Linked DNA regions of Homo sapiens: region 1 is linked to region 2. Evidence: fine-mapped expression QTL. A gene starts in region 2. The other region holds a variant in brackets. All regions are shown on one strand. Distances are from middle to middle. Region 1 overlaps DLC1 (DLC1 Rho GTPase activating protein). Region 2 holds the start of DLC1 (DLC1 Rho GTPase activating protein).

Region 1 (5,388 bases), 150 kb after region 2:
GGAGGAGTGACCAGTCCCAAAGACCTCAGAGGCCTTGTAGGGACTTTGACTTTTTTTTCCTTTTTCCATTTTTTTTTTTTTTAAGTTTTAAATCTGACTTTGACTTCTATTCTGAGTGAGATGAGAAGCCAGGGGAGGGCTCTGAGGAGACGATCGGAGAGCCGACTTGGGGTTCAAGTGGACCACTTTGGCTGTGTGTTGAGAACAGCTTATGGGCACAAGAAGGGGGATCCAGGAGACCAGGCAGGAGGCAAGTGTAACCCTCCAGGCCAGAGAGGATGGTGTCTGGACCAAGGAAGTAGCTAGCAGCAGTGCTGGTAAAATTGTTCTTATTCTAGATGTATTTTTAAGGGAGAAAAAAACAGGGGTTCTGATGAATTGAACATTGTCCATAAGAGAAAGAAAGAAGCCAGGGATGACTTCAGGGCTTCTGCCCGAGCTACTAGAAGAATGAGAGAACTCATCAAAGGAAACTGAATTGGAGTGCCCAAAAAATTAGGAGAGAGTACTGTTGCAGAAAACAATCATTCAGACGAGGAGATGAGAACCGAAAATTGCCCATGTGATTTAACAACAAAAGAAAAAGCAGCCTCTCATGACTTTGGTGAGAACATTTGTAATCTTTTTTTTTTTTTTTTTTCGACCCAGCCAAAAATACTGGACGTGCGAGACTATGAAAGGAGGTATCAATAGGTTAAATAGAAAGAATGAATCTATTAGAAGTTCAACCAAATTCAACAACTCCACTCTATGGCATGACAGGAGAGAGACAGAAGGTTAAGACACAGCACATGTTCTCTAGGCCTGTAGGCACTTACAGACTATTGAGGATGCAGGATGGACATATGAATGGAAATAAGGTGAACCGTGTAATCATAGCACTGCCCTGAATGTTCTTATTCTCTAAACATCATCAAAGGCTGAGGCAATCAGATCATTTGAGGTCAGGAGTTTGAGACCAGCCTGACCAACATGGTGAAACCCTGTCTCTACTAAATATAAAAATTAGCCAGGCATGGTGGTGAGCACCTGTAATCTCAGCTACTTGGGAGGCTGAGGCAGGGGAATTGCTTGAAACCAGGAGGCAGAGGTGGCAGTGAGCCAAGATCACACCGCTGCCCTCCAGCCTGGGCAACAGAGTGAGACTCCCTCTTAAAATAAATAAATAACCATCATCAGAGATGGACTGAGCAGGAAGAACATCACTAACATCCATATCACTTATCCTTACTTGGAAGAAACTTGTTTATTCTAGAAACTGGAAACCATAAACATCCTTCCCTTCCGTGAGGGCTCTTTCACCTAACAACTCAGAGTATCTGTGTTTCCACCAGGCTGCCAAGGTTAACCTATTAGGAATGATGCATGTCAACTTGGTACAAATAACTGTGGCTCAAATGGAAAATTCTCTCTGACAGAACACTGGCATTCTGTAAGAACTTTTTTTTCTATGCAGAAAAAAAAAAAAAAATTTAACTGCCTTGGCTTGCGTTTTCCCTTGGGTAATATCTCACTGTAGCAACCTCAAGTCCTTCATGATTTCCTTGGGGCAAATGAGAACTTGACCTTCTTGTTGTGCTGCTGCCTGAGGTGCAAGGCAATGCTTTAATCAACAACAGACATCTTTACTATGAAGAGGATGCCAAGTTTCCAGAAAGAAGGATGGAAAGCGGGGGAAGGGAAGAAAGGAACGTATGAATTTGAGTTTGGTAATGGAAAATATACTGTCCTAGGAGATAGAAGACATGGTGTCTGAGGGCCCTTTATCAAGTTTGAGACATTAATCTCTCAATTTAAAGTGGGGGTCAAATCTAATCTGTTTAAAAATTCCCAATTATGTCTTTCAACAGAAGAGCTCTAACTTTCTTTTCCACTTTACATATTACTGGATTAAATTCAGCTGTTTGGAACACAAGGGCCTCTTGAAGCCAGGGTCAAAGATGTAGTCACTGCTTTAAACACAGAACTTCACCATTCCAGAAACCATTCCCAGCTCCAGAGGTATAGACACTCTTCCAAACCCCACACAATTATTGGTCATAATTGGGATTTGAAGAGAGTCTATGTTTATTTCTGTGAAATTCCTGTCTAAGCCGAAAAACTTCTCAAGGCTCTTGTCCTAATCTTACTATCTCATCCTCATTTGCAAATGTAACTTGAAGAATCTCTTGAAACCTCTCCTGTCTCACTTCCTTGCCCTGGTGCTGGCAGACTGGCCAAACCTGCAGAATTCATCCTGAAATTGACCAATTTCAGATGAAACAAAACACAAAAGAGAAGAATAAACTGCAGAGTACTTCACTTCTACTACAGAGTATTTCACTAAACATCACAAAGTGCCTGATATGATGACTTCAAAGGATACAGGAAAGATTCAGTGTGCTAGACTATGTAAAGAAAACACACCCTTCACAAAAACAAATAAGCACGTCTTTGTCTTATTTTGTTTTGTTGTTGTTGTTGTAATCAAGAAACAAGGTTGTACAAAAAAACAATTCATGGGAAGATCTTTGGTAGGTGGAGGCTGCTTTTTGCTTTTCTTCTATTGGGCCCCCTAATGACGATTGAGATATGCAAGCTAACATGTAGGCAGCACCTAAGAACAGGAGGCTGTCTGTACTACAGGATCTTTAAGGACAGTGTAGAATCACTGCCAGCAGTTCTCTGTGTTAGGTTTCCTCACAGTTCATGATCTGGATGGATTGAGTGAGATGCATTTCACGTCCTGAGTTATAAACCCTGCAGGTCCCCTTCTCCTTGTAAAACTGATCAGATCTAGCCTTGCAAGACCCAAGGTATGACAGCAGCCAGAACGAGTGACCAGGACTAAAGTAGAAACCCAAAATTAGAAAAGAGTAAAGGATTTTAAGGAGAGAGACACAAATACACTGAGTGTCATCTGGCCTCTATTCTCATTTTTAGCATTATAAAATACAGAATACAGCCTCCAGGGAGACATGGAGAGGAAAGGGAAAGGAGGCAAAGTTCGTGGTTGGGAGAGTGAGTAGACAGGAATGAGGGTTGAAAAGTGTGCCCCATGCACGCAAGACAGGAAGGAAGGAAGTGATGCAACACATCGAGGAATGCAAGAGCCCAGCAATTCCACAGAGATGAGTGTGTGTGGGAGAG[C/G]CCGGCCAGAAGGGAGAATGACTGATGGGAAAGCTTCTGGAACAAAGTACAGCTGGGTGGCCTTCGACCCAGAGGGGAAAGGGAGACCTTGGTCTGGAAAGATCTTTCCTGTGTCTGAGGATGAGCATAGAGCCTTCACTGAGTCCTGAGAGGGCATCCGAAAGGAGAGAAATGGAGAGAAGACCTAGTCAGGGGAAGTTTCTGGCCCAAAATTTATATCTGCTCTAACCAAGCAGATTTCTAAATTTTTTGTTGTTTGAACTTCTTGTCTGAACTTGGGAACAAGAACACTGAAGTATAAGTCAAGACCTCTGGGTTCTTTCCCCAGCTTTTCTGTTAATTTGCTGTGGGGCTTTAACTTGTTGGGTTTATTTATCCTCAAAGGCTAGAATATCACTCATAGTGTTAACCATAGAACCTCCCCATTCACACACCTACCATGTGCCCACAAAGAACCTTCCATAGACTGCAAGTTTCATGGGGCCATGGACAGTGTCCATCTTAATCACTACGATATCATCATACTTAGGACAGCGCCAGGCATGTAGTGGATGCTCAACAGACATTTTCTCAATGAATTAAAGTAGATTACAATCCAGAAAGCAGATGAAAGCAGAGTTGTCCTGGCAGGAACAATAGGAAGCCCTACTATTTTCACTGCCCCTTCAGCCCTGGGCTCCCAATAGGAATTCCAGGACTAGGAGGAACCCAGTGTTAAACAGCTAGCTGGACGAGCCGTAGAGGCTTCTCTTCGAGTCTATAATTCTGTGGTCTTTATGCAGCACTTGTTGAGCTGAAAGCATAGAAATTAATCTTGTTTGGTCCAAATTCACCTGACTGAAGGATCACTTTTCCCACTTCACCTTCTAAAGTCCTAGTCTTTAAACCTTCTGGCTGGTACATTTTCCCCTCTCTTTGCGGAAGATGAAAGCATTTTTCCAGACAGGCCTGCTGTGAGTGACTTCAGGGAAATGAATATCTTGGGTCACTTAGGTGCCTCTCATATGGGGAACTCCTTGTATATATTTATTTTTAAGAATAGGGCTGAGAGGTTGACATTTCCATTAGCAGTTGAGTGATTTTTTTTAATTTTTTTAAATAACAACCCTATTCCTCGGTGAGACATGCCTCACATTCCGCTCTCCCCACTGCAGGCAGTTATGTGCTGCTAAATATGCAGTGGAAATGACACATGTCTGGAAACCCAGAAGGAGCACCGTCTCACCACGGCTCGCTCAGTGGTGCACAATGAAAGTGCTGTAAGTGCTTCATTAAGCAAGGTGGACTCCAACATTCTCAAAAGAGAAATTGGTAACATCTCATGCATCTGGCATTTGTCCCTCCAACGCATTCACAGGTGTCTTCTGTTTGAACTCTGGTCACATCTAGAGTAGGATAAAGGCACAGGGTCACCTGACTTTCCAGAAGATCCTGGAACTATCATAGTATCTGCAAGTGAATTGAGGCCAGTAGTTCCTCCTTCAAGGGAGGGGAGCTGTGCAGTCACTTACCACCAAAGGCGTGGATCAGCTCCACGTGCACCTTAGATAATAGTAAGCCCTGTGGACATCTGACTCACTGCATTCAATAGCCTAGCATGCTTTTGTTCTAAAGGATAGATATAATCAGTCTAACTCAAAGTATTTTTCTCCTAATTTAAGTCCACAAAGGAATCCCTACAGGGTATTCTCTCGACCTGTGCAAAGTCCAGTAACAGGATAGAGGTTGTGACATGGAAATTTAAAATGGAATTTGATTTCTAAGGACTATACTACGGGAATACAGATTGGATTAAATGTAAATGAAGTATTAGAACAGCAAGACACGTGTCCTAGTTGAAGAAAGTGTTGCAAGTCTGTGGGCAAAGATTTACCATGCAATCTCAAACATACCAAGAATTTAATCCTTGGCAAAAGATGAGGGTCCTTTTAAGGACAGAAAACAAACATTGCAATTATATTTTAATAAACTCAAATGAGTTTCTTAGTTGGCAATTTATTTTTATTGTTTTGATGGTTTGTGGGTAAATGAGTTAGAAATATGAGACGACTTTCCTTAAAATATACATGTTTTTACTAAGTTAGGGGAAAAGTTTGGTTTTGATTGGTCTTTGAAAGGCTGACAAAGATGTCTATAGCATGTGATAATTTTAAAAATCACCTATTCCTAGTCCAAAAAAGGGAATCCATGTAAGCTTATGTGCTTGCATGGTTCATGTACCAGTATGTAGGGTCAGTAAACAAAAGGGGAGATAGAAGT
Region 2 (5,388 bases):
AAGTACTTAGGAAGTTTTCTCACTATTTATCTTTACACTCATATTTGGTAAAGCCTTTATAAGACTATAAGATCTGAGATTTGTTTGGAATCAAGCAACTCAACAATGAAAAATAAATATAAGTAATTAAAGATTTGGGAAGTAATCCTATTAATAGAAGAAAACATAATGTATTTTTTGTGTAGAAAAGGGTATGTTTATGAGAAACTTACTAACAAGAGTTTCTAGATATCTAAAAGGCATTTGTGAACAGAGTTTTCTTGTTTTCCCAAGCCAATAGAAATAGAAACAAAACTAAAGTATATGGCGCGGGGTACAGTATTCATGAATAAAATGTAGCTAAGAATTAGCATGATGCTGATATAATATTGAGTAACCACTGTATATCAGTACTAAAGGCAGTGACAGAGATAGAGATATCAAGTTATATTAGGAAAGACATAATATCAGTTCTCATTCCTTTCTTCTCCAGTGTTTTTCTTAGGGAAATAAACATAAATACACAAATATTTCTGCATATAAATTTCATCCTGCTTTCCAATCTATAAGTTATGTGAAATTGTCTCTATTTTTAAAGAGAAACTATTAGAGTTTAAGAAGTCTTCCCAATTTAATAAAGAAATTAAGTGGAAGTCAAGGAAGGCAGTTTATGGAGAAAAAATTAAAGCACAAAGCTTGGAGCTAGAATATCTGAGTTCCAGTGTGGACCTGGGCACTTTGTATCATTTGACTGTGAGAAAATTGCTTCTCAATACTTTATTTGTAAAATAAAACATATGAATACACGCAAAATTGTTGGAAAGATTAAATAGGCATACTGTCAGTAGAAACACTTTGAATATAAATATAAATACTTTTTAAAGAATTTATGGAAGAACAGACTTCTTTCTTGGCCTATGGTTGAAGATTAAATTAAAGAAACCTAAATGCTCATGTTTTTAGTCAATAAGACTTTGATCTAAACTTTTAAAGCTGCTTCTGACCAAACGTTTTTATTTGACTACTTCTCATCTTCAAACTCATGCACAGTATAAGTCATTCTTGCCATCTAACATGGGTCTAATATGGTTCATGATTTGCATTAACTTTGAGAGATTTTAGCTACCTAATAAGGAAAAAAATAGTAGTTAGAACCTTGTGCATCTTTGAGTTATCACCTACCCAATATTATCAAAAAGTACTACAAGATAGCCCTTGTGATATACAGGGATGGAGAATAACAGTGAACAATGAAAACTACTTACAATTTCAGAGAAGAACAGGATAGATCTTAGGGCCAACAAGTTTAAGATGTCTTTTACCTCTTTATATGTTACTCATTTTATCACATCCAACTGGAATTATTCTTGCACTTCCTATTATTGAAAGCTTCTAGAAATTTGCAAGAAGCAGATAGACCTAATAATTAATCTGATCATCAGTCCCCCCCCAAAAAAATGCTTGAGTCATAAATAGCAGCGAAATCCATTGATTGTAAATAAAGTAGAAGGGAGACATGACTGAGCCATTTCCACCAAGCAAGATAATTAAAGTCAGAGATGCTGTTTCCTGCTTCCCTGGTATAAACAATGAAGCTGCTCTACTGGCCTCTCCACAGCCTGGATGTCCCAAAACCACCTCCCTCTTCTTTCCTTCCACATTCTCTAAAGAGGATTCTGGGTCATAAAGGAAGGAAAATTGGTGTAACTTTTTTCCTGAAACGACTTCAGCTTCCTCTGTGTTTGTATTTGTGATATCTTATTATAAGACGAGCTAACATCTATTATTAATTGATGCACTAATTAAAGCCATACTTGCAGTTTCCATTAGCTTATTCCCTAAATTCTCCAGAGTTGCCTGTCTGGTTTTAATCAAAACCAAATGGTAGTCCAAATTCCCAACCTGGAGCAGCTAGGAGGAAGTCATTCAAGGGAGGCACAAGAAAGCAGAAAAGATAAACAGATGATAGTTCACAAAATTTGTGACGGACGAAGGATGCAGATACCATGAGCGGCTTTAGAGATGTGATTCAGGAACGCTGCCATGCTAGATGGAAGCAGTTGTAAGTGTTTAATGTCAGCAAGACTCTAATACGATCAAGATGGAGCCTGTCTTCTGCTCCAGCACTGGATTTTTGTAACTGGAGGATTCTGACTAGAGGTAATGCGCTGCTGCATTTGCCATAACACGAACTATTTTAATTCTGTGAAGGATTCTTGTGATCAGAGAGATCTGGAAGAAATCGTTCTATTAACTGGATGCTTGGGATTTTACTTACAGATGGTCTCAGGGACAGAATGAAAAGCTGCAGCATTTCCAATTTTAAGTCATGTTCAAAAAAGGTTTTGCCATTTAGAAGAATTATGGTATTAAGGCTAAATTCATCTTGCTCTCTTAAAAGATCTTTTGAAATGAGAGCAAGCACAGGCATTTTGATTAAGCTGTGCATATACATTTAATATAGTGGAAAGGTTGTGGATAGAGAGAAAACTACGTTTTCTTTCTTTCTTTCTTTCTTTTTTCATAAGCAGTGTGGGATAGAAAAAGCTCTAGGACTTTATGACTCTACAGCTAATCACCTCAAGAGCTTTGACAAAACTCACTTGAGTTCTGTGTAAAATCAGAACTCCTAAAACGCCCAGGCGGCTGGGCTCTCCCCTCCTCCCCTCTCTTCGTACAGCCTTTCTAGCATGCACACTCCTCAGAGGCAGGAAATACTTTCCAGGCAATCTGGGCCTGGTTGTGGAGGCCCCTTTTGCAAAACCTCAGTCTGAATTTAGTAGACAGAAGTCACTAGGAATGCCTTGACAGGATCCTGCCTTAGCTAAGGCTCCCTCCAGCTGCAGAGGGTGTTTTTGTTAGACTCACACACTGCGTGAAACTGCTCAGAATAGAGCCATGATCTCAACCACGAAATGGGAACTTAGATTTTGGAGAAACTAACGGGGACGGACTTCTTTCCTAGCCTGAGTGTTGAGCAGTGTCATGCCTTGGCGTTTCAGCTCCTCGTTGTCTAGGTAAGACGCTATGGACTATCTTTATGCTTTGAGGCGGTCTTTGAAGAGGCAGAAAGATTGAGATAAATGTTAGCATCTTGCACGGAGTTGGTGACTTCCTAGGTTTTAGAGCAAAGCCATAAAATCAGAAGTGGAAAATGTTTGATAAGTAGAAAATTCTGAGTCAATTCGTTTTAGCAAACTGTCAGTTCTAAAACAGGCTCCATATAGATTTAACTCTTTTCCTCCATAAAGTAAGATTTTATTTTTATCCCTTTTTACGTTTAACTTATTTATTAATTGAGCTGTCGGATCAGTTTTCCTATTTCTTGGCATAACGTGAAACAAATACATTTTCTCACACATCAGTGTGAGGTGTAAATGAATTCCTCCCCTACCTTCCTTTGCCAACAGGGAGAGTAGAAAGCACCCGAGTGACTTGTGCTTAATAATCAGTCTCCAAAGAGTATTTTGTGTCTCATTTAAAACTACGAAGATTGAATTTCTTATTATTTTACCCAAGCCAGTTTCAATCATATGTCAAGCTTCTCCTGTACAGCTTAAAAGGTTCATTTAAAAAAAAAAAGTAAACACGTGAAATTTCAGGAATTATTTCTGTCCTAAATAGTATTTAATCTGAGTTTTGGAAATTTAAATGTCGGAATCGAATTTAGTTTATATTAATTTTCCTGGATTCACTGCTTGCTCCGGTCACATTTTGTGTAATATTTTGAATAACTGAAGTCAATCTCAATGACACTGACACTCATTATAACTCTTTTAAGGCAGCCAGAAATCACTCCAGTCATATGGAAACTGTTTGTGTCCTTACTTATGTAATCGTAAAATTACATTTCCACCTGACTGTAGTCTCTTCAAGGTAATCTTAAATGTTTAAATGTACAATATATTAGAAAAGAAGTTTAGTAATGACCGAAAAAGTGTGGACTTATAATGCATAAGATACTGTTATATTTCTGAATATTTATAATAAAATTCATCATTTTATAGAAATAAAATGGTACATAAAGGGAAGAAATATTCATGTACATTTTCAAATCTATTAGATGAATACAAAATATACTAAGTGAAAGATGGAGAGCTATTTTGACAGTTGGATCATAAGAAATGAAGTAACTGTTTTCATTATAAGTTTTTATATAGTACAAGGTGACCATCTGCTATATTAGCTATTCTCAAATTTTATGCTAGAATAACTTATATTGATAAATTTTAACTATTCACTGACAATTTGTGTTAAAACTTCTTAAATATGAGAAAAAGAATCTACTTTTTATATATGTGGAAGATAAAATACTGACTTATCTAAATTATGATTTAATTAAAATCTCCAAATGGAATTTCAGAGAAGGAAAGAACATAAGAGATGGTCTCCTCTAACAATGGCTTGAGGTTGTCTACAAGAAGCTGAGAAATGGGATTTAAAAGTGACCTGTCCAAGGTCACACCTCTAGCTAATAGAAGAGAGGACAGCAGAACCACAGTGCCCTGATTCATAATTCAGATACCTTTTTATCCCATCATCCTGCCCTCCCATAATAATTATGCATAATGAAGTATGAACATGTCCAGTAGAAGGGTGCTTTGCAGACAGAAATTTGCAGTTCCTCTAATTTAAAAAAAAAAAAAAAAAAAGGTAAAACTGTCACCAATGTTAATTATGTGGGGAAAAAAATCCTAACTTTAAAAAAAAATCAAATCAGTATGCCTTCAATAAACACTTTACAGTAGTAACTTGCTTTATGACTATTTTATTATATTTGATGTTTATGTCAAGAAAATCAATCCATATGCTAATAATTATATTAATTTTAATCTGATGTTTCTTTAAAAATAGGGCTAGAAAACAGCTTTTCTAATTTATATCCTTGTACTCAAATGATCATAATGAAACTGTCCCAACCAATGACTTTCAGAGGCAATTTTACAGCACCACCCCCAGGCATCCTTTCTTCTATCTAGCCTAAATCATTGTTGCTGTAGCTTATTTCAAGTTCTATGTGGGTCTTTTCACTAAATATATAAAAAGCCTAAGTTGACATATAAAAAATATGTTTACATTTCTCCAGCATGTTTGCAATCCCTTAATTGATTTGTATGTCTGCTCTAAGCCTTCTACAAAGTCATTTAATTGTAGAATGCAGAATTTTTACAGTATATAAATAAATGTCTGAACAACGTGGTATAAAATGGGAGCGTGGGCTATTTCATCTGCATCATACTTCATATATGACAATATTTGTTGCTGTGTGTGCTGAAGCAGTATACCTTCTCAGACAAGACCCTTTCTCATAAATGTAACACATTCCATTTCTAATAGCTGCCATTTCCTTAGAGAGAATGTGTCACGATACTTTTTTTTTCCATTTTCATGACCAGATTGAGTTTCCTG

What was found. PIP is the estimated chance that this variant, and not a neighbour inherited with it, causes the effect.
Region 1: its variant is fine-mapped to the expression of DLC1 in fibroblasts (GTEx, PIP above 0.99).

What each region holds. Positions count from the first base shown.
Region 1 is chr8:13,364,608-13,369,995 of GRCh38, reverse strand. The region is part of intron 4 of DLC1 (DLC1 Rho GTPase activating protein); the gene reads left to right. Among named protein-coding and RNA genes, the nearest start is that of DLC1, 150 kb to the left of the region's middle. RefSeq lists an enhancer at 2,462-3,661. The variant C/G (reference allele first, on the strand shown) is at 3,130.
Region 2 is chr8:13,512,210-13,517,597 of GRCh38, reverse strand. DLC1 (DLC1 Rho GTPase activating protein) reads left to right here and starts at 2,747. Exons shown (of 18, transcript NM_182643.3): 1 at 2,747-2,996.